7 linked regions of the Homo sapiens genome follow. The protein of the gene in region 7 interacts with the protein of the main gene of each other region in a pairwise test. Each region holds a gene or a part of one and is shown on either strand. Other genes may lie near its edges.

Region 1 (3,500 bases), on a different chromosome or scaffold from region 7:
TATCTCTTCTACCTCTGCCACCCCTGAGAAGGCAAGACCAACCCCTCCTCTTCCTCTTCAGCCTACTCAACATGAAGATAAGAATAAAGATCTTTAGGATGATCTACTTCCACTTAATAAATAGTAAATACATTTTCTTTCCTCATGATTTTCTTAATAACATTTTCTTTTCTCTAGTTTATTGTAATACAGTATATAATGCCTATAACATACAAAATATGTGTTAATCAATTGTTTATGTTATCAGTAAAGCCTCCAGTTAACAATTAATAGTTAAGTTAGGGGAAGTCAAAAGGTATACAGGAATTTTCAACTGACTGAGGGAGGGTAATCAGTTGTCCAGGGGTCAAGTGCATTTCTCAGTAGGGTGTGGTGGCTCACGCCTATGATCCTAACACTCTGGAAGGCCAAGGCGAAAGGATCACTTGGGCCCAGGAGTTTGAGAGCAGCCTGGGCAACATGACAAGACCCTATCTCTACAAAAAAAAAAAAAAAAAAAAAATTTTATTTAATAAATTAGCCGGGTATGGTGGCACACACCTGCAGTCCCAGCTACTGGGGAGCTAAGGCAGGAGGACTGCATGAACCCAGGAGTTCAGGCTTCAGTAAGCCAGGATTGCACCACTGCACTCCAGCTTGGGTGACAGAGTGAGACTCTGCCTCACTAAAAAAAAAAAAAAAAAAAAAAAAAAAAAGAAAGTATACTTCTCAATCAAAGGTCCAAGATTGTTAAGTTCAAATGGTATCTCTGCAAGGACCTCCCTTAACTTCTATTTTATCTAATTGAGATTATACATCAATGTGTTTTTAAATACATAAATAAATGCATGAATAAGTAAATCCAATAAAACACATTAGCTTAGATAGTAAAAATGAAATAAGTATTTACAGACCCAAGGGCCAAATCTGCCCACAGTAGTCTGTTTGGGGTTTTTTTTTTTGGCTTTGGCTTTTTTTTGTTTCTGAGACAGGGTCTTACTCTGTCACCCAGGCTGGAGTGCAGTGGGATGATCATGGCTTACTGGAGCATCAACCTCCCAGACTCAAGTGATCCTCCTGTCTCAGGCTCCAGTGGCTCCCTGCCCCAGAGATAGCTAGGACTACAGGTGCAAGCCACTATGCCCGGCTAGCTTTTGTATTTTTTGTAGAGATGAGGTTTCGCCACATTGCCCAGGCTGGTCTCAAACTCCTGCCTCAAGTGAGCTGCCCACCTCAGCCTCCCAAAGTGCTGGGATTACAGGCTTAAGCCATCGTGCCTTGCCCATAGTCTGTTTTTACAAATAAAGTTTGTTGGAACACAGCAACAGCCATTTCTTGATTTATCATTTGCCATGGCTTTCTTGCTATCAAGGTAAGATTGAATAGCTGCTATAGAGATTGTGTTGCTCACAAAGCCTAAATACTCACTCTCTGGTCTGTTATAGAGTTTGCTGAGCCCTGTTTTAGCTTAACCTACTGAAAAATTTTTCTACACTATTAATAAAATCTTCCTAGTCACAAATATATGTAGATTATAAAGTCACAAAAAAGGAGCAAGAATACAAATGTGGACGTGAAGTATGTTAGCACTGGTACAAAAGAAACAATCAGACCAACTATAAGAAGAGAAAATACAATATAATGGGCAATAGGCCAGACTTCGCAGAGATACTAATGTTGGTTTGATCCTAGGTTGATCTCTTAGGTGCCATGTATCATCCTTAGAAACGTTATTTGACCCTTCTGGCCTCAAGGTTCTCATCTGTAAAACAGAGAAATATAATACTTATCTCATAATGAAAAGATTATACTAGATCATGTTCATCAGCTAATTAACTCATTGCCCAGTGTGTAACGGGTAAGATGAGCTGAATTCAGGGTTAAAAGTGACCCAGAGATTTCTAGAGATCGGGTAACGGATGAACTAATAAAGTCATTCACTGACACAGAGAACTCAGAATGGATTTTTGTTGTTTGTTCAGATCATCTTTTGTAGAGGGAAACAGATTTGGACAATGGAAGTTCAGTATGAATGAGATAGCCACATTACAATTTCTGTAAGGCAATTCGAGTTATATTATAGTTTGGAAATGAGGTAAGACATTAATCCTGGAAATGTAGACCTTGGAGGTAATTTGCATAGACGTAAGAGTTAATATCACAAGCGTATATAAGAATCCATGGGAGGCTAAGAGCAAGATATAAGTGGGCAAAAGATAGAAGAATACTTGGAACTTATCATATTTAAGGGAAGGGGATGTAAGGAGTAAGACAGAGGGGACGTAAAGGGTGCCACAGCACAGAAGTCAGGGGAAAAGACATCTAGAAGGAAACGGGCCTGTTTCCTGGACCCAAATACCACTCAATGTGCAATGTTTAGCATGCCGTATTATTACTACCTGCTGTTGTCTGTATTCCTACTAGCCTGTGTGGTTCTTGAGAGTAGAACACACAAACACATATATATACACATACTCTTTCTCTCCTCTCTCTCTTATATTTATCATCGTATGCCCATAATCTAGCACTACATGTGATGCTGGGTGGAAGACGCGGGAAGAAGAGAAATAGGAAGAAAAAGAAAAGAATGGAAGGAAATTGGTCAGCAAAAACAAAACAAAGAAGGCTGCCTCTTTGGAAGGGGCAGTAAAGAACTATTTAAAAACTCAATAGAGTGAAGAGACAACTCACAGAATGGGAAAAAGTATTTACAAGCCATGTATCTGGGAAAAAGCTAATGTCCAAAATACATAAGGAACTCACGCAACTCAACAGCAAGAAAGCAAATAACTTAAAAATGGGCAAAGGGGCTGGGCGAGGTGGCTCATGCCTGTAATCCCAGCACTTTGGGAGGCCGAGGTGGGTGGAGCATGAGGGCAGGAGAACGAGACCATCCTGGCTAACACGGTGAAACCCCATCTCTACTAAAAATATAAAAAATTAGCCAAGCATGGTGGCGGGCACCTGTAGTCCCAGCTACTTGGGAGGCTGAGGCAGGAGAATGGTGTGAACCCAGGAGGCAGAGCTTGCAGTGGGCCGAGATCGCGCCACTGCACTCCAGCCTGGGCGACAGAGTGAGACTCCATGTCAAAAAAAAAAAAAAAAAGAAAGAAAGAAAAATGGGCAAAGGATCTGAATAAAGATTTCTGAAAAGAAGACATATAAATGGTCAATAGGTATGTGAAAAAAAATCCTCAAAATCACTAGTCATCAGAGAAATGCAAATCAAAAGCACAATGAGATAGATACACTTTACACCTGTTAGAACCGCTATTACCAAAAAGAAAAGGTAAGTGTTGGTGAGGATGTGGAGAAAAAGGAACCACTGTACACTGTTGGTGGGAATTTAGAGGAGTATAACCATTATGGGAAATAGTATGGAGGTTCAAAAAAATTTAAAAATAGAACTATTAACATATGATCCAGCAATCCCACTTCTGTGTATATAACACAGGAAATGAAATCAGCATGTCAAAGAGACATCTGCACCCCCTTGTTCACTGCAGCATTATTCACAATGG
Region 2 (3,500 bases), on a different chromosome or scaffold from region 7:
GTAACTCTAATTACTAGAAACTATTAGTAATTCAATTGTTACTAAAATAATTTTATACCAAACTGCATGGCTGTTTCACATCTGCTCCTAACTGTGGAGACTCTCTAGATTCAGGATAAGGTATATAGGAACAAAGTCCAAACAGGGGGGGATGGAGGAGGGATAGCATTAAGAGATATACCTAATGCTAAATGACGAGTTAATGGGTGCAGCACACCAACAAGGCACATGTATACATATGTAACAAACCTGCACGTTGTGCACATGTACCCTAAAACTTAAAGTATAATAATAATAAAATTAAAAAAAAAAAAAAAAAAACAAAGTCCAAACAGGACACCAGTTAAAAAAGGAAGTAATAAGGCCCTACAAGATAGGTCCCTAAACACTCACTAAGATGGTGAATTTTCCACTGAGGATCTCAGAACGAAGAGGTTCCTCATGAGGTTTCAGCTTTACAATGCCTTCCTTCCTTCGAGTTTCCTAAAAAGGAAGCACAGCAAAATGTATTAATATGAAAATACTGTATATCCAGGACAGCACCATGTAACCACCAAATCTCAGAGATAAGGTGGTTATCAATGAATGAATGAATTATAAATTTCATAACTAAATAAATTTTGTAACTAATTTCATAACCAATTCTACTTCATTTAGTTGAATTAGAATTCAATTAAATGGGCCGGGCGCAGTGGCCCACGCCTGTAATCCCACCACTTTGAGAGGCCAAGGCGGGCAGGTCACCTGAGGTCAGGAGTTCGAGAGCAGCCTGGCCAACATGGTGAAACCTTGTCTCGGCTAAAAATACAAAAATTAGCCTGGCATGGTGGTGCGCGCCCATAATCCCAGCTACTCAGGAGGCTGAGGCAGGAGAATCGCTTGAACCCAGAAGGTGGAGGTTGCAGTAAGCCAAGACAGCACCACTGCACTCCAGCCTGGGTGACAAAATGAGACTCTGTCTCAAAAAAAAAAAAAAAAAAAAAAAAGAATTCAGCTAAATGAATAATGAAGTCAACTAAATGAATTATGAATTTCTTTGTAACCTGCCTCCAAGCCAGTCAAGCATTTTCGGAATTCCTGTCCAAAGCTACTTTATCAGCCCCTCAGGTAGGGTATTTTTCTCTGACTCAGTAAGAACCCTAACCCTGAAGAGTAACCAGTATGTTACATTCAGGTGCAGGATCAAGGTTCTTAAACACGCAGCAGCACTGACATGGTACCAGGACACTAAAATATGGACCTCAAAAATGTCTGGATGCCTACGTTCTCACATATTTTCTAGGTTTAGGCCTCTCCTATGTTTAAATAGGAGCCTTCTCTCCACCTGATATTGTCTCCAACAGCAGCTACCATGACTTCATTTTCCTCACCCTGATGGCCAGATTCTTTTTTTTTTTTTAATTGAGACCAAGTCTCACACTGTTGCTGAGGCTGGAGTGCAGTGGCATGATCTTGGCTCACTGCAACCTCCACGTCCAAGAGATTCTCTTGCCTCAGCCTCCTGAGTAGCTGGGATTACAGGCACGTGCCACCATGCCTGGCTAATTTTTGTGTTTTTAGTAGAGACGGGGTTTTGCCATGTTGCCCAGGCTGGTCTCCAACTCCTGGGCTGAAGCGATCCACCCGCCTCGGCCTCCCAAAGTGCTGGGATTACAGGCATGAGCCACCGCGCCCAGCCTCTTCAGTTCTCCTCTTAAATGACAAGGTTGACCACCTACACTTCCTTTTTCCGGAGACATTCTCTACCTTTATATACCGATAACAAAAAAATATTATCTTGGTTTGTCTTATTTCATCAACCGCTTGTTTTAAACCTCTTAGGCTGGGCACGGTGGCTCATGCCTGTAATCCCAGTACTTTGGGAGGCCGAGGTGCGTGGATCACTTGAGCTCAGGAGTTCGAGACCAGCCTGGGCAACATAGCAAAACCCCGTCTCTACTAAAAATACAAAAAATTAGCCAGGTATGGTGGTGCATGCCTGTGGTCCCAGCTACTCGGGAGGCTAAGGTGAGGTGGGAGGATCACTTGAGCTCAGGAGGCAGAGATCTGCAGTGAGCTGAGATCATGCCACTTCACTTCAGTCTGGGAGACACAGCAAGACTCTGTCTCAAAAAAAAAAGTGCTTCCACAGAATCCAGTGCTGCCTTATCATAACATTTCTACAACTCTTTGTTTATTTTCTCTTTCTTTTTTTTTTTTTTAAACAGTCTCACTCTGTTGCCCAGACTGGAATGCAATGGTGTGATCTCGGCTCACTGCAACCTCCACCTCCTTGGTTCAAGTGATTGTCCCTCCTCAGCCTCCCGAGTAGCTGGGAATACAGGTGCCACTACACCCAGCTAATTTTTGTAGTTTTAGTAGAGATGCGGTTTTGCCATTTTGTTCAGGCTGGTCTCAAACTCCTGACCTCAAGTGATCCACCTGCCTTGGCCTCCCAAAGTGCTGAGATTACAGGCATGAGCCACCGCACCCAGCCCTAGTCTCTCTTTCTAAATAGTAATCTCTGCACCTGGAACACAGTAAGTATAAAATAAGTATCTGTTGAGTAAATGAATGAATATTGAATGAGCTGGTCCACAAGACAGATGTAACCAAACTTCAGTTAAGCTAATCCTAGTGCTTGTTATCCCAATTTTTTTTTTTAGGGAGATTTTGTATTTCTTTAGAAGGATTCTGACCCCAAAGTAACATGCTGTATAGTGTTTTATCAAAGACACTACTAACTGAGAAAGCAAACAAGCACAAAACCAAAGTCTATGCCCCCTCAAAAAACAAAAATCAAAACAAAGTAAAATCCTGATGCCGCTACATTTGCATAAAGATACTTTAAGATAATGGACCTAGCTAATACACAGTTGCTCTTCTTTTCCAGTGTTAAAACTTCCCTTCCTGAACTGCCCACTAAGCTCATCATTCATCTGAATGGCAAGTTTCTAAAAGCCTTAGACAACCTGAAAACCAAGATTTTCATGTGGCCAGAGGCCAATGAAAAGAGCTAGGATTAAAACTCTAGGAAGGGTGAACCCCTATCCTGCCACCAGGATGCTGTCAGGCTACTTCCTCCGTCTCAATCATTAGATGTGGCATCCTGGTCTACGATCAAAACTTAGGTACAAAAGTAGTGCCTTCCAGTAGCTGCCTTGCCCAGCTTCAGCTCTCACAAGGGCTCCTGGATATGGATCCATTTTTTATGAAAGTGAGGAGGAACACTTAGAGAACCAATGTGTGTGTCGAGCATGACAGGGACAACAGCAACACTTAACCCAACTGCCACAGGTCTGGTCTACCCCTGAGCCACATACTCTGTAGGAGTGGAACAATTCTATGGCACGGAGCACATCAAACTTCCTTGCCATGAGGAACTTGACAGCCACATTCCAAGACAGCGGGGAAACATTGTACTGAACTGTCCACTTGTTAATCTCTTCGAGAAACTGCTTGGTAGCCTGTTTGACAAAGAAAGAAAGAATAATTAGTAAGAAGAGAGCATATTTATGGAG
Region 3 (4,109 bases), on a different chromosome or scaffold from region 7:
GCTGGAGTGAAGTGGTGTGGTCTAGGCTCACTGCAACCTCTGTCTCCTGGGTTCAAGTGATTCTCCTGCCCTCAGCCTCCTGAGTCGCTAGGATTACATGCACCTGCCACCATGCCTGGCTTTCCTTGGGTTGTTTCTTAACTTGTCCTTGACCTGGGTTCCAGTGTTGGTTTCCTGTTGCTGCTGTAGAAAATTATCAGAAGCATGGCAGCAGGAGAGACCACACTGACACCTTCCAGTACTGGAGACAGAAATTGGACCCTATTTTTCCTGGGCTAAAATCAAGGCATCTGCAGGGCTTTGTTCCCTCTGGAGACTCTGGAGAATCAGTTCCTTGACTTTTCCAGCCTCTATAGGCCACCTGCATTCATGGATCTTGGCCTTCCTCCACCTTCAAAGCTGGTGAAGACTTCCACTGGACTGCTCTAATCCCCACTCCCCTCTTCCTCCTCCTTTCATGTGCACCCTTGTGATTACACTGAGCCCAGTGGGACAGTCCAGGCTGTCTCCCCATGAGCTCCATCTTCCCCTTCAGTCCCTTCCCCTATAACATAAATAGTCACAGACTCCAGGGATTAGAATGTAGTCATCACTGGGGACAATTATTCTTCCCACCACAGCACCCATTTCCCTGTATTCAATCCCCCTTTACCACAAATACAGTCAGGGCCTGCGTGATGGGACCCTCAAGGACATGCCCAACAGAAGCTCTGGGATTCAGGAGGTGGGACAAGGAGAATCCAAGACAGGAGCCCTCTGACCTATGACCACGATCACCAGGGGGTTGCTGGGTGCTGACCACCCACTGGGGGAGTGTGTGTGTGAACCCCGACATCTGTATGTCCCTGTGTGTGCGGGGGTCACAGGGCCCATGAAAAGGCTGTTCCAGAATATTCTGTTGTAGAGCTCAGGGACAGGCACCCCACCTTCCTTTTACAGACTGAAGTTGTTAAACCCAAGATAAGAGTGACACCGAAGAATGACATGTCCTAGAGGCACCACAAGGCTGGGCCAGGCAGACAGCAAGGGCTTGTCCTGACCACCTTGGGGAGAAGGAGGCGCCGCCTTAGAGAGGAGGATGTGGAACTGCCCTTCCCTCCCTGTGCTCAGAAGATTCTCCTCGCTTTCCACGTTTCTATGGCTACTATCACACCTTGGTGCCCAGGGCTGAAGGAAGGACCCATCCCGCAAAGACATGGTGTCTCCCTACAACAAAAGCCTCAGCTGAGAACTTTGAGCAAGTGCTGAGTAAAGAGACTCCTACTAGATTTTAATACTGTAAGATTACTCACATAAAACAACACAGGGTAGACATGAGGTGGAGGGCATGTCCTTTGTGAATGGATATCAGCGGATGCCTGAACGAAAATAAACAACTGAGCCCCCATCAGAGGATTTGGAATGTCAGGGCCATGGCTGTGGTTTCCCACCTCTTCTGGTAGAATGACAGCAGCCACACTGCAGCCCCTACCATCATGGAAACGCTGAAGTGTGTGAGTAACACCTTTGTCCTCAGAGGATCTGCTGTTCCTACCACTTCCCAACCACACACCCCAGCTTTGAGCACCCCAGTCTAACCCTGGTCCCCACAGAACTTGACTCTGCCAAGGGGTTGAGAGGCCAGGGAGGCGAGGTCAGAAATGTGGGCTGAGCACCCCAGGGTCCTCTCTTCCTAGTTTATGAGAGACTCCCCGACAGGACTTCCCTCCTGTTTCAGGAAAATCCTCTTATGTGGGGAGATGACACCCGAAGGTTTGGAGAAGGACTCACCCTCATGTGGCCAGGCCCCCTGCAGCAAGAAGAACCCTGGAAAGAAAGATCATGATGGACCATCCATCTGCAGGCAAACCAGGCCTCCCTTGCTGCCCCCACTGGGCTGTGAGTCTTGGCAGCCAGGCCCTTCCTGGGCTGAAGTTAAACTCACCCTCAGTGCCTACCTGCACCCAAGAACAGGGCTGTCGGCTGTGCAGAGACCCAGTTTCCAGGCCCATATCCCCACCCCAAGCCCATATCTCCACTCCAGGCTGATATTTCCACCCTAGGCCCATATCGCCAATCCAGGCTCAGATCTCCACCCTAGGCCCCTATCTCCAATCCAGTCCCATATCTCCGCCCCAGGCCCAGATCTCCACCCTAAGCCCATATCTCCACTCCAGGCCCATATCACCTCTCCAGTCCCATATCTCCACACCCAGGCCCATATCTCCTTCCTAGGCCCATATCTCCACTCCAGGCCCAGATATCCACCTCTAGGCCCATAACTCCACTCCTGGCCCATATCTCCACTCCAGGCCCATATCTCTACTGCAGGCCCGTATCTCCACCTCCAGACCCATATCTCCACTCCAGGCCCATATCTCCACCTCCAGGCCCATATCTCCACCTCCAGGCCCATATCTCCACTCCAGGCCCATATCTCCACTCCAGGCCCATATCTCCACTCCAGGCCCCTATCTCTACTGCAGGCCCATATCTCCATCTCCAGGCCCATATCTCCATCTCCAGGCCCATGTCTCCACTACAAGCCCATATCTCTACTGCAGGCCCATATCTCAACCTCCAGGCCCATATCTCCACTCCAGGCCCAGATCTCCACTCCAGGCCCAGATCTCCACTTCTAGGCCCATCACTCCATCTCTAGGCCCATAACTCCACTTCCAGGCCTATATCTCCAACTCTGGGCCCCGATCTCCATCCCCGCACTCCCTCCCTCGATGCCCTTCCAGGACTCACCAACACACACCATGCTGACGACCATGAGCGACATGGTGCTGTCTGTGCAGACAGGCGGCCGCGCCCCAGCTCAGCTCAGCAGCGCACAGGATGTTATTTGGCGCCCTGCCCATGCAGTTTACATGTTGACCACATCATGGGAGGGTGACGTACGCAGGCTCTTTCTACCTTGCATGAGGCCCAGTGGGTGCTCGCTCAAGAGCGGAACATGGCTTCCTGGAAATTGTTCTCACTAGAATTGACACCTTGCGTCCTTCACTACGACCAGACTCAAAAGACGTCTCAGATCCAACCTCTCATACACGAGATGATTGAATTCTGTGCTTACATTAAAGATTTTTGATGTATTTTTGTTTTTATCTGAGATTCAAACTCTTCTTCATATGTAATGTGCAAAATGTCTAACAGGTATTATTAACATTATCAGAGTAATTGTGACAAGAAGCCATTCTAATTTTCCTGCTTGAGTTTCTACTACTAAACCAGAGGCATCAGAATAGCTTGAACCTGGGAGACGGAGGTTGCAGTGAGCTGAGCTCAAGCCACTGAACTCCAGCTTGGGTGACAGAGGAAGAGTCTGTCTCAAGAAAAAAAAAAAAAGCAAACTAAATAACCTATAATAACAAATCAGAGGACTCAGGTTACCAAATTTTAAGGGGTTCTATAAGTTTATATAAAATGCAGCATCCTCATGAGAGGGGATACAGAGAACCACTGGACAGAAAACTGTGTCTAAAATACATCTGTGGATACACAGTCCCTTTATAGTTGACAAAGGCTGCCATGTAGTTTAAGGTGGAATAGAATATTTTCTCAACAAATAACACAGGACCATAGGGTTACACGTAGGAAAAAATAAATCTAAACTTATCCTCACACTATAAAAACACTTCTTATTTTTTATCTTGTTGTTGTAAATTTTTTATGCTTTATTTTTAAGATTGACAAATAAAAATTATATACCATGGTCCTTCACTATACCTGGGTGATTGGTTCCAGGATCCCCATTCAGATACCAAAATCTGCAGATGCTCAAGCCCCTTGCATGAAATGGCATAGTGAAGCTGGGCACCGTGGCTCACGCCTGTAATCCCAGCACTTTGGGAGGCTGAGCTGGGTAGATCACAAGGTCAGGAGTTCAAGACCAGCTGGTCCAACATTCTGAAACCCCATCTCTACTAAAAATATACACACAAAAAAATTTATCTGTGCATGGTGGCACGTGCCTGTAATCCTAGGGGAGGCTACTGGGGAGGCTGAGGGAAGAGAATCGCTTGAACCTGGAAGGCGGAGGTTGCAGTGAGTTGAGATCACGCCACTGCACTCCAGCCTGGGTGAGAGAGTGAGACTGTCTCAAAAAAAAAAAAAAAATAGCA
Region 4 (3,500 bases), on a different chromosome or scaffold from region 7:
TTAAAGTCTTCACTGTGACACACTGTGCTGTCTGGCTAAGTTCTCCAGAGAAAGCACGGCCAGCTTTGTCTCCTCAAGCAGAGGCACGCAGAAGGCAGGGAAGGTGACCCCCCTCTTGCCATCGCAGGCAGCAGTTAGGAGCACAAACACAAGCTGTGCCAGAAAACAGTGGGTGATTCAGTCCATACTTGAGCAAGAGAAGAGATGGGACAAGATGCCCTCTAAAATTCCTCTAGTGAGAGGCAAAGACACACAAGAAATATGAGTAAACCTCACAAGAAAAAGTAGAAACCAACTCAACCTCGACAGAAAAATGCTAATTAACTATTGAGATCGTAATCCACATGTGAGAAAGGAACATTTCGTCAAGTGAGTCAACAAAAACCATGGAGCATGCACCAACAGATATATGCTAAGTCAGAGGTTTTATAAGATCCTGGTGAAAAAGGACAGAAAGTAGCCCTGTGATTACAGAGGGGAAAGCCAATTCTCTGATGAGTGGTTCAACATTTTTTTTTTTTTTCCTGAGATGGAGTCTTGCTCTGTTGCCCAGGCTGGAGTGAAGTGGCATGATCTTGGCTCACTGCAACCTCTGCCTCCCAGGTTCAAACGATTCTCCTGCCTCAGCCTCCCAAGTAGCTGGAATTACAGGTGTGCGCCGCCACGTCCAGCTAATTTTTGTATTTTAGTAGAGATGGGGTTTCACCGTGTTGCCCAGGCTGGTCTCAAACTCCTGAGCTCAGGCAATCTGCCCACCTCGGCCTCCCAAAGTGCTGTAATAAGCATGAGCCACCATGCCCAGGTGACACACCACTTTTTAAAAATCACCAAGCGTGGCATCCATTGATGGCCTCCAGTACCTTTCTCCTTTTCCTCCTTTTAATTACAGCAACCCCCAAGCTTCAGCAGGGCACATAACTGCCTAGCTAGAGACTACATTCCCCAGCCTCCCTTGCAGAGAAGTGTGTCATGTAACTAAGCTTGGGCCAATGGGATAAGGACAGAAGTGATCCTAGAGCATCTCCTTAAAGCCACTTGCCAGGTATTCCCACTCCACCTTCCCTTCCCTTCCCTCTGGCTGGCAAATGGTGATGCCTGGAGCAACCTTGTAAGTCATGTGTCATGGACAGCAGAGCTGCCCATCAGCCTGGGATAGCTAATATTAGACTGAAAACAGAAAAATAAAATCTTGTTAAGCCACTTAATTTTTTTGTGGAGGGCAGAGAATGATGATGGGGGTATTATACTAAAATAGCACCTAACTAACCACTGTTCACACCTTCTCCTCTTACCTACCTTCATTTTATATCCAATACATTTGCATGTCCCCCTTATAATCTCTGCTTTTGAATCTGCCATTACTGAACTTCCACTATTCCTTACTTAACTGAACTAAATCACATAGCTGAACTCCTTTGAAAGCATGGGCTCTCTTGATGGAATACTGATAGTGCAGTGTGGGAGAGGGGGGAGTGGATTCAAAGGTCCTGCTTCTCATCCTGGGGGGTGGGGTAGGGCTTAGACAAACACTCAGGTCCACTGACAAAGACCTGCAGCCAAAAGTAACTCCCTAAAAATAAAATAAAGGCTAATATTAGGACTTGTTTAGTTCCCTGCTTAAGGTCTTATAGCTTCCCCACCGCAAATTTAAAACTCAGTTAATATAATGAAGGCAACTGGCATCATGGGTAAGAGTGCAGACCCTGGAATCAGAACCAATCTGGGATTCAGCCCCATACCTGCTATTGATATGACCATGGGCAAATTAACTACTCTGTCTCAGTTTCCTTTCCTGTCAAATGGGGATAATAGGGCCCTCACAGGGTAGCTATGAAAATTCAAGAAAATAGTATGTGTTGAGTTACTTTGTAGACATACTACTAGAGGACTCACTAAATGTTAGTTCTTTTTTTTGAGACAGGGTCTCGCTCTTTCATTCAGGCTAGAGTGCAGTGGTGTGATCACGGCTCACTACAACCTCCACCTCAGCACTTCCTGGGCTCAAGTGATGCTCCCACATCAGCCTCCCAAGTAGCTGGGACTACAGGTGCATACCACCACACCTGACTAGCTTTTTGTATTTTTAGTAGAGACACGGTTTTGCCATTTGGCCCAGGCTGGTCTCAAACTCCTGGGCTCGAGCAATCTGCCCACCTTGGCCTCCCAAAGTGCTAAGATTACAGGTGTGTATTAGTCCATTTTCACGCTATTGATAAAGACATACCCGAGACTGGGCAATTTACAAAAGAAACAGGTTTAATGATTTACAGTTCCACGTGGCTGGGGAGGCCTCACACTCATGGCAGAAGGCAAGGAGGAGCAAGTCACATCTTACATGGATGGCAGCAGGCAAAGAGAGACAGATTGGGCAGGGAAAATCCCCCTTATAAAACTGTCAGATCTTGTGAAACTTATTCACTATCACAAGAACAGCACGGAAAGACCTGCCCCCATGATTCAATTACCTCCCACTGGTCCCTCCCACAACATGTGGGAATTCAAGATGAGATTTGGGTGGGGACACAGCCAAGCCATGTCGAGGCATAAGCCACCACACCCAGCCACTAAGTGTTAGCTGTTATGATAACTCTATGCCTTTCCACATGCAATTCCCTCTGCCTGAAATAACTTTCTCCTTTTGTTCACCTAGGGAATTCCTTCACATTCATTGTAACTTATGCTCTGTGAGGCCTTCCCAGCAACTCAATCTGCCAGGAGCAATCAATCTCCTTCATCTGTGCTACTGCAAAGTCACATATATCAATTCTACTTATCATAGTATATTGCACTTGGGTGTTTAAATTTCTGACCCTCCTCACTATGGACATGACTCATGTCTTATTCACTGCTAAATCCCAAGTACTTGGCAGAATACACATTATAGGGTCTCATACATGTTTGCAATAATGAACTGAATACATCCTTGAATTCACTCTAGAATCAAATGACCTCTCCTCTGTATTAGAAATTTGGCCTAACAGGCCAGGCAAGGTGGCTCACGCCTATAATCCCAGCACTTTGAGAGGCTGACGTAGGTGAATCACCTGAGGTCAGGAGTTTGAGACCAGCCTGACCAACATGGTGAAACCTCATCTCTACTAAAAATACACAATTAGCCGGGCATGGTGGCGCATGCCTGTAATCCCAGCTACCTGGTAGGCTGAGGCAGGAGAATCACTTGAACCCAGGAGGCAGAGGTTGCAGTGAGCCGAGATCACGCCACACTGCACTTCAGCCTGGGCGACAGAGTAAGACTCCGTCTCAAAAAAAAAAAAAAAAAGAAAAGAAAAAGAAATTTGGCTTAACAATTATGTCATTCTTTCTATAAAAAGAATTGTCCTAGCAAATTAAATCGATGCATAATTGTCATTGCTGATATTCTAAAAGGCAGTTATCTGAACATGAACATCTATAGAAATGTTCTCTAATGGACTTTTCTTGTCTAACATTTCTTCACATTCCTTTAAAAATTGTTGGCAGGTGCAATTCAGAAGATCTTA
Region 5 (4,005 bases), on a different chromosome or scaffold from region 7:
CAGGAAACTGGAGTGGTCCTCTCAGCCAGCCTCAGAGGAAAGAAATCTCTAGCTGGCACAGGCAGCCAGTGAGTGAGGCTGGCGGCTGCAGGGGCACAGCCTTTAGAATGAGTCCTTCAGTGCACAGGTCCCAGGGTATACGGGGTAGTGGGAGGAAGGAGGGGACGCCTCGCAGATGCCACTGTTGGCTGGGCTACACCTTGCCACACTTGTTACTGCTTAGGAGGCTTTCTGGAGTGTTCCTTGGGTGCTACGACAATCTGCAGCAGACACTGTCCTTTCACCGCTCCTGGTCCTCGTTTGCTCCCCAGTGATGTCAACAGCTGAGGACTGCTCACGCTGCAACAAAAGGCTCTGCAGTCGCTGTCTAGCTTGCCCTAGTCGTCTCTAGAGTTCTGCCTGAACTGAAACTCAAGTGGGGTTCAGCTCATGACTTGTGGCAATTGACCAGGAAATTCACCAGTTGCTGTGGCTGGAAGGATTTTCAGTCCTGTGGGTTGTAACCAGAGGCCACAGGTGGATTCTGCCTTAGGCTCATGAGATTTCCGACTTGCTGTTGAAGAAAATGCCTTGTGAAGTGACAACAGTAGCTCTGACCCAACTGCCGGTGCCTCGCTAGTTCCTATACGTCCCACTGGATCCTCACAGCCCCGGGAAGCAGGTGCTACTACTCTTATCCCCGGGAGGAGACAGAGGCCGAGAGAGGTTAAGTGACGTGCCCAAGTCACACAGCTCGGCAGCGGCCGGGTTGAGCATCAGCAGTCTGTTTGCAGACCCCTCACTGTCACCCCCTGAGCCAGTGCGCCTTGGGCCCTGCGGTCAGGATGTCTCAAGCGTGGAGGCATCACCGGTTCGTGGCAGTCTCTGGAAGGTCACTGAGCTCTGTGCCCAGAATCGAGTCGGGGGAGTCTGTGCAGAGGTGGCCCTGTGTGTGGGGACAGTGTGTGACACAGACACTGCTTTGGATGGACACCTCTCCCGTGACCTCCTAGCATCCAATCCCAAAGGAACAACTGTTGCAGAGATGGACCGCTGGACACAAACCCACGTGCGTTTCTCTGGAGACACTGGCCAAGGAAAACAAAACATGCTCGAAGGCCAACAGCTGCATGCCCCACCGCGATGTGACCGCAGACACCCGGGGTGTAGAAGGGTCTCTGCCTGGTGGGGGGACACGTGCAGGCCGAGGAGAGGCAGGAAGGAGGCTGCCTCCGACTCCCCACTGGACTGCATGGCGACGGCGTGTGGTGGGGCAGTCAGCTAAGCCATTTGCCTAAGGGGCTGTCGGGCATCTGCGTGCTGGGGACCGACAGTGTGGGTGTGTTAGGAGGATCTGTATGGAGCACATTGCTGCCTCTGGCTAGGACAGGGTGGAAAGGGTGGCGTGGCTACAGCCTGACCCATGGGCACCGTCCTACCCTTTGTTCTGTGCTTCCGAGTGTCAGTCATGTGCTGGGGTCTGTGGGCCCATGACTCAGACGGTGAGCTCTGACCTTCCTGAGCCAGGGCTTTGCTGTAGTTGTGCCTGGCTCAGGAGCTCTAGGACAAGGGGACCGCTCCAGGTCTGCATCTACGGTGTGGCAGGGCCCCTCGGCACTCTTGTGCACTAGTGTCATCTTTCCCATTGAAATGACTGTGAGGACCAGAATGTGCACATGCAGATGGGCAGCTACTTGTCTGCCTTGGCCCTTTATTACACAACTTGCTGGGGGTGGAGATGCCACCCCCCGGCAGTCAGAGCCCCTTTATGATGTCATGGGGCTGGTTACATGACTGCCAAGGGGTGCTGCTGGCCACACTGCACTAGCAAGTTTGCCAGATGGAGGACAAGCGATCATTGAGTATGGCTCGCTGTGAAGAAAGAAATTCGAGAGGACAGGATCATGGCTTGGAAAGGGTGCCTTTCCCTCCCCAGTTGCAGTCAGAGACCTACCTTCACCCAGCAGATCCTTCCCCTGCCTGGGACGACCCGGGGTCCACTGGGAGCCCTAACTTGAGGCTGCTGACAGAAGAAATCGCTTTCCAACCTCTGGCCGAGGAAGCTTCGTTCAGAAGGCCGCACCCTGACGGTGACGTCCCGCCCCAGGGAGAAGATAATCTCCTCTCCCTCCCCTTTCCACAGAAACTGTGGAGACTGGTCAGCAGCAACCAGTTTTCGTCCATCTGGTGGGATGACAGTGGGGCTTGTAGAGTGATCAATCAAAAACTCTTTGAAAAGGAGATTCTCAAAAGGGACGTCGCACACAAAGTGTTTGCCACAACTTCGATAAAGAGCTTCTTCCGCCAGCTAAACTTGTATGGCTTCCGAAAACGGCGTCAATGCACTTTCAGGACCTTCACCCGCATTTTCTCCGCAAAAAGGCTGGTCTCCATCTTGAATAAGGTAATGAACGACAAGCCTCTGGAGGGGTTAAGTCGGTGGGCTCTGGGGCCTGGTCGGGTGGAAGTCCCAGGACTGCCTCCTGGGAAGTGGGCGACCTCAGGCAGGGTGTGGGGCCATCGCTGTGGGCCTGTGTCCCCCTCTGGGTGGAGGTGACATGAACTAAGAGTGAATGTGGGGAGAGGGCTGAGGATGGTGCGGGCCCCTCTCGAGTGTGTAAAATATCACAGGTGCCAAGTAGCCGTATCTGCGTGTCGTCCTCCCCGGGGCCAGCCATGTCATCTGGCGGTTGCTGTGTCCCCCTGACTCCACAGCACATTACCCTGTGAGGTGAGCAGGCCAGGGGAGTCTGGTATTTGTACCACTGTCACCCTAGCTGGTGTCTGGAGAGGTGCTCAAGTGGAAGCACTGAAGGGCGCCTGGCGCAGGAGGTGCAGATGCTCCTGCTGCCCTTGGTAGGTGGGCCCCTGGTGTGGAAGAGCCAGTACCCAGGGCCTCCAACCCAGCCGGGGTGCATTCTGTTGCCAGCTGACACTGCATGGGGGAGGCCCAGAATCTTCTTCCCTCCTGGTCTGCAACTTCAAAGACCCTTTCCGCCGGCCATGGACACCCTAATCTGCCATTTTGAGGCTTTTTCCAAGACGGAAAGGCCCGCCACAACTTGGTAAACCTTGACGATGTGAACGCGAGTCCCCAGCTTCCTTTGGGGACTGGGACCTTTTCCAGAAAGGCCTCCTGGGCCAGTAGAGTTCTCTTGCACAGGGGCGTAGATGGTTGGTAGTTGTAGTCCATCCTTGTGACTTGCAGTTTCCTTTTGTTTATTTAAACTTTGACTTATAGTTAGAGTTCTACTGCCATCCTTACTTTCAAAGAGACTCCCCTCACCTCCTCGTGAGGATGAAGAGAAGAGTGGGTGTCAAGTCTGCACCAAGACATCAGGAGGAGGACAAGCCAGAAGCTGCTGGATCCTGTCTGGCACCAGCAGACACTGAGCAACAAGATCACACGTCTCCGAATGAGAATGACCAGGTCACACCGCAACACCGGGAACCGGCCGGTCCCAACACCCAAATCAGGAGTGGCTCTGCTCCACCAGCAACTCCTGTGATGGTGCCTGATTCCGCCGTGGCGAGTGACAACAGTCCAGTGACCCAGCCGGCCGGCGAGTGGTCAGAGGGCAGCCAGGCTCACGTCACTCCGGTGGCCGCTGTCCCTGGGCCTGCAGCGCTGCCCTTCCTCTATGTCCCTGGATCTCCCACTCAGATGAATTCTTACGGGCCTGTGGTGGCCCTTCCCACAGCGTCCCGTAGTACCCTTGCCATGGACACCACAGGACTTCCTGCACCTGGCATGCTGCCCTTTTGCCATCTCTGGGTACCGGTGACCCTAGTGGCTGCTGGGGCTGCACAGCCTGCTGCCTCCATGGTCATGTTCCCCCATCTCCCAGCTCTGCACCACCATTGCCCCCACAGCCACCGCACGTCACAGTACATGCCAGCTAGCGATGGGCCCCAGGCGTACCCAGACTACGCAGACCAGAGCACATAGAGGGCAGCATTTGGGCAGAATATGTGCTGGTCAATAAATGTGTCAGAAAATGAGTAATTTTCTGACTGCACAAAAAA
Region 6 (3,500 bases), on a different chromosome or scaffold from region 7:
GGTGTGCATTCGTGTTAGGGACTGGAGGCCATCTTCAGGTGTTCTCTACAGCCACCTCCCAGCAACTTAGGCAGCAAGCCTTGGAGCTGCAGTGCTACTTGCGAGTTGTCAGGGCATCCAGCAAGCCTGTGCAGCTTAGCTGGATAGATGCATTAGAGCTGCCTCTGTGCTGCAGGATCCTCAGGCATCCTAGCAGTGGCCTGCTCAGTGCTGTGTATAGCTCAGGCCTCCAAATTCTGAGGGGGAAGTTTAACTTCTCAGAGGTTTATGGAATGTGTCCCAAACTGACACACCAGCCTTCTGCTAATAGACTCTCTGCTAGCAAGGGTCACATTTTGTCTCCCTGCACTTCCATTTGCATATCCATTTAATGGGACTTTACAAAAATGAGTTAATTTTTTTTAAGTCTGTTTGTGGCCCAGCTCATTTTGGCTGCAGGCCAAATTATTCTGACTCTGCATGTATGCAGTCAGATCCCGTAAGTGCTGTTTTCAAATCAGTCTTGCTTCATGGCACCCAGTGAAGCCTCAAAATTAGGTGCATGTTCAGCATTGAGCATTCAGTTACCAAGTTCCTTGCCCAAGGGGTATCCTGACTATAAGGACACAGTGCTACTGCCAACTAAGTTTCCACATGAGGTTGTGTGTCAGAAAAGGAGAAATTGTTGGATTCTTAAGTTCTTACGCACTGAGGCATCTAACTGTCAAATTACAAGATGGGAAGGAGAGAGCCCTAAGACCTTGCTACTCAGCATGTGATGCAGAGACTGGCAGCAGTCGCCTTACCTGGGAGCTTGATGTTCCGATGGTTGGTACCAACATTTGTATGAGAAGCACTGTTCTAAGGAAGATCTCTGCAGAAGGTACAAGGACTCTAATGTTAGGTCATCAGAGCAGATCTAGCTGTCTAATCACTTGGAGGCAGCAAAGCTTGGTGGTCTCCTAGTTTTGTGACCTGGAGTGAATTTAGAATCTCTGTGCCTCAGTTTTCCTATCTAGGAACTATGGATTATGGTACCATCTACCTCATGAGATTGTTTTGAGGATAAAGAGTTAATACATGTAATGTATAAGCAGTGCTTGGCACATGTGTTGCCATTATAGTTAGGATTTTTACTATCAGCTTCTGTAGCTACTAGGGCACTGCTTAAACAAATTAATGAACCCAAGTTTTACTTAAAAGACAATGGAATCTAAAGCCAGAAAGGAATGAAAGCCACATGATTGTGGGCCTCCTGTCCTGCCAAGAGTCAGGGCTCAGAGTCTCACGACCTGCCTTCAACAGTAGCGGTCCAGTGGTTATTGTTCACCCTGGATAGCATACACAGGCCCGGGGGTGGGCTGCTGGTGTTTACGAAGCTCTTCAAATGTTTCTAATGTAGCAGCGGGATTTAGAATCATTGTACTAGGGCTTCTAACTTGCTAGGAAAAGAGCAGAACTTAGTCTGTTTGGAACCAAACTTGACAGAGACACTATGGGGCGACTCTGAATTGCACACAATGTCTGCTACTGCATCTAAACCCATCTGGTAGTGGCAGCGGGGAGATGTTACGACAGTTGTCATCAAGATCACCCTGGACACTTGGACAAATGGGGTAAAGAGTTGTGGCAGTAGCTGTAGTTGTTTTCCCATTAGCCTCATTCTGAGGAGTTTCAGAGAAAAATGGGGTTACTCTCTGGGCATTCTCAACCACCAGGGTAAAAATCTTGGGAGACTCAGCTACATGTTCAAGCCCTTCTGCTAGTTTCTGGCTTGTCATTTCACTTCCTGGCTTGTCACTCTACTTCCTAATCACATAGCTTTTAAAGATGACCCTCCCTTCTCCCCCCCAACAAAAGGTCAGGCATTTCCCTTTGCAACCTGGCTGCATATGGAATCATTTTTGGCATTTAAAAATATACTGATGAGGCCGGACACGGTGGCTCACCTGAGGTCAGGAGTTCAAGACCAGCCTGGCCAACATGGTGAAATCCCACCTCTACTAAAAACAAAAACAAAAACAAATTAGCCAGGCGTGGTGGCATGCACCTGTAATCCCAGCTACTTGGGAGGCTAAGACATGAGACTTGTTTGAACCGGAAGGTGGAGGTTGCAGTGAACCGAGATCCTGCTACTGTACTCCAGCCCAAGCGACAGAGCAAGACTCTGTCTTTACAAAACAAAACAAAACATAGTGATGATTTCATTGGTCTGGGGTAGGGCTTGGGCACAGAGATGTTTTTAAAGCTCTCTTTAAAGTAAGATTCTGATGTGCAGCCAAGGCTGAGACCCACGGCTGCAGGCGTTGTTCCTCCCTCTACCCACTGCCCCCTAAGTCTTGTTCTGGGGCAGTGCTGTCAGTAGAAATGGATGCAAGCCACATATGTAATTTAAGAATTTTCTAGTAGCCACATTAAAAAAATAAAAACAGTTGAAATTAATTTTTTTTTTTTTGAGACAGAGTTTTGCTCTTGTTGCCCAGGCTGCAGTACAATGGCACGATCTTGGCTCACTGCAACCTCCACCTCCCAGGTTAAAGCGATTCTCCGGCCTCAGCTTCCCGAGTAGCTGGGATGACAGGCGTGCACTACCATGCCTGGATACTTTTTTTGACAGAGTCTCGCTCTGTCGCCCAGGCTGGAGTGCAGTGGCACGATCTCGGCTCACTGCAAGCTCCGCCTCCCAGGCTCACGCCATTCTCCTGCCTCAGCCTCCTGAATAGCTGGGACCACAGGTGCCCGCCACCACGCCCAGCTAATTTTTTGTATTTTTTAGTAGAGACGGGGTTTCACCGTTGTTAGCCAGGATGGTCTCAATCTCCTGACCTTGTGATCCACCCGCCTCGGCCTCCCAAACTGCTGGGATTACAGGTGTGAGCCACCGCGCCCGGCTTACTTTTGTATTTTTAGTAGAGACAGGGTTTCACTATGTTGGTCAGGCTGGTCTTGAACTCCCGACCTCAGGTGATCCACTTAATATATTTTATTTGACCCAGTATATCCATAATTTTATCATTTCAACATGTAATCAAAATTGAGCTATTTTGCTGCATTTTCATACTAAGTCTGAAGCCTTGTTTATGTTTTACACTGCACATCCCAATTCACACGAGCCAGACTTTCAAGTGCTGAATGTAGCTAGTGGCTGCTGTGGCAGTGATACAGGACATTTCAATCAGAGCAGAGATTTCTATTGAACAGTTCTGTTCCAGGGAGTCCTTATTTTACAAATTCCAGGCTAAGAGGTCCTCACAGGGAGCACCGTTTTTATTGTACAAGATGCTGATGACAGGTTCTTTCATATTCAAATTCAGACCTCCCCCACATTGTTACTTAATAATTCTCATCTACCCACACAGCCATCCGAGCTAAGCTTGCAAATGGGGCAGGAAGAACAGGAAAAAAACTCAAAACCTCCCCCTTCATAAATGTGGTATTTGTCCATGTTTACATGGAGGTTCCACTCAGCCCTTGAGGAGCAAAGCAGCAAGTGGGGCAGTCACTGTTTCCTCAGGTTGAGG
Region 7 (3,500 bases):
CTCCAGAAGCTCAACAGATTAAAAGAGATGGTAAAGGTGAAAATCAAGCTGCAGTGCTGAGGCCTCACTGTGGGGCAGGCCCTGGGGAGCTCTGATGAGCACTTCCACGTCTCCCTCCCAGCTCCTGCAGGGTGTGCAATCCTTATGCCTATTGTACAGACGGAAATCAAGACCCGGAGAGGCAGAGCTGTCTGGCCCAAAGTGACCTGGTTAAAACACGGCAGAACCAGGACCTGACCCGGCTGACACAGACCCTGAGACCGCAGGAGACACACAAGATACCCACAGAGTCACTTACCAGGTTGTCAGCAGCCAGTGACCTAGGAGAATCACCTGTGGCACAACAAGGGGGAGAGAAGAGGTCTGTGAACATGACCACCACAGGGGCAGGAAAGCGTCGGGTGCAGAAAACACAGGACGCCCCTGCGCCTGGCACCTCTGAGGGCCTCAGTAATGTCTGTTGAAAAGGCACACCAGCAACTGCAGGTGGCCCAGGAGTGAAGGAGGAGGAAGAAAGCAGGCCAGGCCAGGGAGGGGCCGCTTCATGCCTTCACCCCTCCCATGGGGCAGCTGACACCCACACCCCTTCCAAGCGTCAGAGGCGTATGAACCAGAGCAATTCCATCTTGAATAGGAGCTGGGTAAAATAAGGCTGAAACCTAGTGGGCTGCATTCCCAGATGGTTAAGGCATTCTAAGTCACAGGATGAGACAGGAGGTCAGCACAAGGTACAGGTCATAAAGACCTTGCTGACAAAACGGGTTACAGTAAAGAAGCCGGCTAAAACCCACCCAAATCAAGATGGCCACGAGAGTAACCTCTGGTTGTCCTCACTGCTACACTCCCACCAGCACTATGACAGTTTACAAATGCCATGGCAACGTCAGAAAGTTACCCTATATTGTCTAAAAAGGGGAGGCATGAATAATCCACCCCTTGGTTAGCATACTATCAAGAAATAACTATAAAAATGGGCAACCAGCCTGGGCGCGGTGGATCACACCTGTAATCCCAGCATTTTGGGAGGCCGAGGTGGGTGGATCACCTGAGGTCAGGAGTTCAGGACCAGCCTGGCCAACATGGTGAAACCCTGTCTCTACTAAAAATACAAAAATTAGCCGGGCATGGTGGTGTGTGCCTGTAATCCCAGCTACTCAGGAGGCTGAGACAGGAGAATTGCTTGAACCTGGGAGGTGGAGGTTGCAGGGAGCCGAGATTGTGCCATTGCACTCCAGCCTGGGCGACGAGAGAAACTCCATCTCAAAAATAAGTAAATTAATTAATTAATTAATTTTTTTAAAAAGGGCAACCAGCAGCCCTCAGGGATGCTCTGCCTATGGAGTAGCCATTCTTTTATTCCTTTACTTTCTTAATAAACTTGCTTTCACTTTACTCTATGGACTCGCCCTGAATTCTTCCTTGTGCGAGATCCAAGAACCCTCTCTTGGGGTCTGGATTGGGACCCCTTTCCTGTAACACAAGGGTGGGAGGCTCCTTTGTGGAATGCAGGGAATCTGCTCTGAAATCAGAAGAGGCCTCGATGGGAAGCGGAGCGGTGGGGACTCACGTGAGGGTGATTTCTTGGGACACTGGAGCTGGCGCACTGTGGGGGGCAGAGGGGAAAGCAGCTGTTGTGGCTGGAGAGAGCGGGCAAAGGGAGGGTAGCTGGGGACAGGTAGGGGGGCCTGAGGGCCTCGGGAAGGAGCGTGGGCTTCATGCCAAGTGCAACGAGGGACACCACTGAGACTTTTCTACAGGGAGATAGCTTGGTATGCCTTATGGTAAGGAAAAACAACAACAAAATCCCCCTGGCTATTTTTCTGGATTTCTGCAATATTCTACTTTTTTCTTTTTAAATTTGGAGACAGGGTCTTGCTCTGTGGGTCAGGCTGGAGTTCAGTGGCGCCATCACAGCTCACTGCAGCCTCAAACTCCTGGGCTTAAGTGATCCTCCTGCTTCAGCCTCCCCAGTAGCTGGGACTACAGGTGTGTACCACCACGCCCAGCTAATTTTTGTTTTTTTGTAGAGACAAGGTCTCCCTATGTTAACCAGGCTAGTCTCAAATTCCTGGGCTCAAGCAATCTACCCACCTTGGTCTCCCAAAGTGCTGGGATTACAGGCAGGAGCCACTGCACCCAGCTACAATATTTTACCCTTTTTAATGTCCTCTGTGTCCTTAAAATGACAGCCTCCTCTCCTGGAACTGGTCTCTACTCCGGGACATCAACAAGGCCCTGACTGGAAAGCACATAGAAAAAGGGCAGATGGAGGCTGGGCACAGTGGCTCACGCCTGTAATCCCAGAACTTTGGGAGGCTGAGGTGGGCAGATCACCTGAGGTCGGGAGTTCGAGATCAGCCTGACCAGCATGGAGAAACCCCGTTTCTACTAAAAATACAAAATTAGCCGGGCATGGTGGCACATGCCTGTAATCCCAGCCACTCAGAAGGCTGAGGCAGGAGAATCGCTTGAACCCAGGAGGCAGAGGTTGCAGTGGGCCGAGATCGCGCCATTGTACTCCAGCCTGGACAACAAGAACAAACCTCCGCCTCAAAAAAAAAAAAAAGGAAAGAAAGAAAAAGGGCAGATGGGCTGGGCGCGGTGGCTCACCCCTGTAATCCCAGCACTGTGGGAGGCCAAGGCAGGTGGATCACTTGAGGTCAGGAGTTCGAGACCAGCCTGGCTAACATGGCGAAACCCTGTCTCTACTAAAAAGACAAAAATTAGCTGGGCATGGTGGTGGGCACCTGTAATCCCAGCTACTCCGGAAGTTGAGGCACGAAAATTACTTGAACCTGGGAGGCAGAGGTTGCAGTGAGCCCAAAATGGGCCACAGCACTCCAGCTTGGGTGACAGAGTGAGACTCCATCTCAAAAAAAAAAAAAGAAAAGAAAAGACAGATGCCTTGGGAGGGCAGGCAGCTGCAGAAAGAGCTTCCAAAGGGAAGGGACCCAGGCTGAGCACAATGTATGAGCGGGGCTCGGCCAGGCAAAGTGGGGCCAAGCCCCAGGCCCTGCATGGGTGGCGGTGGGCATGGAGATAACTGAGGTCGGGGTGGGGTGGCACAGAGACTTTGGGAGGCCAGGAGCCCCAAATTGGGAGCTTCAACGGGCCTGGTGGTCAATGAGGGCCCTAGAAGTTTACTCAAGGGATTGAGGGGTCAGGCTGGAAGGGAGAGATGCCACATGCCTGGGGCAGAGGCAGTGTCCTGGCGCAGACATGGGCAAGGTTTGCGAAGAAGGCCGGGGTTTCTGGCCTGGGTGGAAGGGCAGAAGGAGCCCTCACCACCTGCAAAAAAGAACTGTGGGCCAGGTCTGGTGGCTCACGCCTGTAATCCCAACACTTTAGGAGGTGGAGGGAGAAGACTGCTTGAGCCCAGGAGTTCGAGAACAACCTGGCTAACAAAGTAAGATCCTATCTCTACAAAAAATCAAAAAATTAGCCAGGTATGGTGGAGTACATCTATAGCCCCAGCTACCTGGGAGGCTGAGGTGGGAGAA

What was found.
Region 1: the proteins of AGTRAP (region 7) and FARS2 interact in binary tests that used the Homo sapiens proteins (3 or more experiments, as listed by UniProt).
Region 2: the proteins of AGTRAP (region 7) and PTPN9 interact in binary tests that used the Homo sapiens proteins (3 or more experiments, as listed by UniProt).
Region 3: the proteins of AGTRAP (region 7) and KIR2DL3 interact in binary tests that used the Homo sapiens proteins (3 or more experiments, as listed by UniProt).
Region 4: the proteins of AGTRAP (region 7) and MCEE interact in binary tests that used the Homo sapiens proteins (3 or more experiments, as listed by UniProt).
Region 5: the proteins of AGTRAP (region 7) and HSFX1 interact in binary tests that used the Homo sapiens proteins (3 or more experiments, as listed by UniProt).
Region 6: the proteins of AGTRAP (region 7) and GABARAPL2 interact in binary tests that used the Homo sapiens proteins (3 or more experiments, as listed by UniProt).

The regions. Positions count from the first base shown.
Region 1 is NC_000006.12:5,362,513-5,366,012, reverse strand, and holds part of FARS2 (phenylalanine--tRNA ligase, mitochondrial), read right to left. Parts: intron 1-3,500. UniProt on the Homo sapiens protein: Is responsible for the charging of tRNA(Phe) with phenylalanine in mitochondrial translation.
Region 2 is NC_000015.10:75,523,816-75,527,315, forward strand, and holds part of PTPN9 (tyrosine-protein phosphatase non-receptor type 9), read right to left. Parts: intron 3,447-3,500; coding exon 3,303-3,446; intron 484-3,302; coding exon 394-483; intron 1-393. UniProt on the Homo sapiens protein: Protein-tyrosine phosphatase that could participate in the transfer of hydrophobic ligands or in functions of the Golgi apparatus.
Region 3 is NC_000019.10:54,737,204-54,741,312, reverse strand, and holds the start of KIR2DL3 (killer cell immunoglobulin-like receptor 2DL3 precursor), read right to left. Parts: upstream 2,801-4,109; 5' UTR 2,768-2,800; coding exon 2,734-2,767; intron 1,807-2,733; coding exon 1,771-1,806; intron 1-1,770. UniProt on the Homo sapiens protein: Receptor on natural killer (NK) cells for HLA-C alleles (HLA-Cw1, HLA-Cw3 and HLA-Cw7). Inhibits the activity of NK cells thus preventing cell lysis.
Region 4 is NC_000002.12:71,120,230-71,123,729, forward strand, and holds part of MCEE (methylmalonyl-CoA epimerase, mitochondrial precursor), read right to left. Parts: intron 1-3,500. UniProt on the Homo sapiens protein: Methylmalonyl-CoA epimerase involved in propionyl-CoA metabolism.
Region 5 is NC_000023.11:149,772,863-149,776,867, forward strand, and holds HSFX1 (heat shock transcription factor, X-linked), read left to right. Parts: upstream 1-1,205; 5' UTR 1,206-1,819; coding exon 1,820-2,383; intron 2,384-3,220; coding exon 3,221-3,928; 3' UTR 3,929-4,005.
Region 6 is NC_000016.10:75,572,879-75,576,378, forward strand, and holds part of GABARAPL2 (gamma-aminobutyric acid receptor-associated protein-like 2), read left to right. Parts: intron 1-3,500. UniProt on the Homo sapiens protein: Ubiquitin-like modifier involved in intra-Golgi traffic. Modulates intra-Golgi transport through coupling between NSF activity and SNAREs activation. It first stimulates the ATPase activity of NSF which in turn stimulates the association with GOSR1.
Region 7 is NC_000001.11:11,742,636-11,746,135, reverse strand, and holds part of AGTRAP (type-1 angiotensin II receptor-associated protein), read right to left. Parts: intron 1,604-3,500; coding exon of another isoform or gene 1,568-1,603; intron 334-1,567; coding exon 299-333; intron 10-298; coding exon of another isoform or gene 1-9. UniProt on the Homo sapiens protein: Appears to be a negative regulator of type-1 angiotensin II receptor-mediated signaling by regulating receptor internalization as well as mechanism of receptor desensitization such as phosphorylation.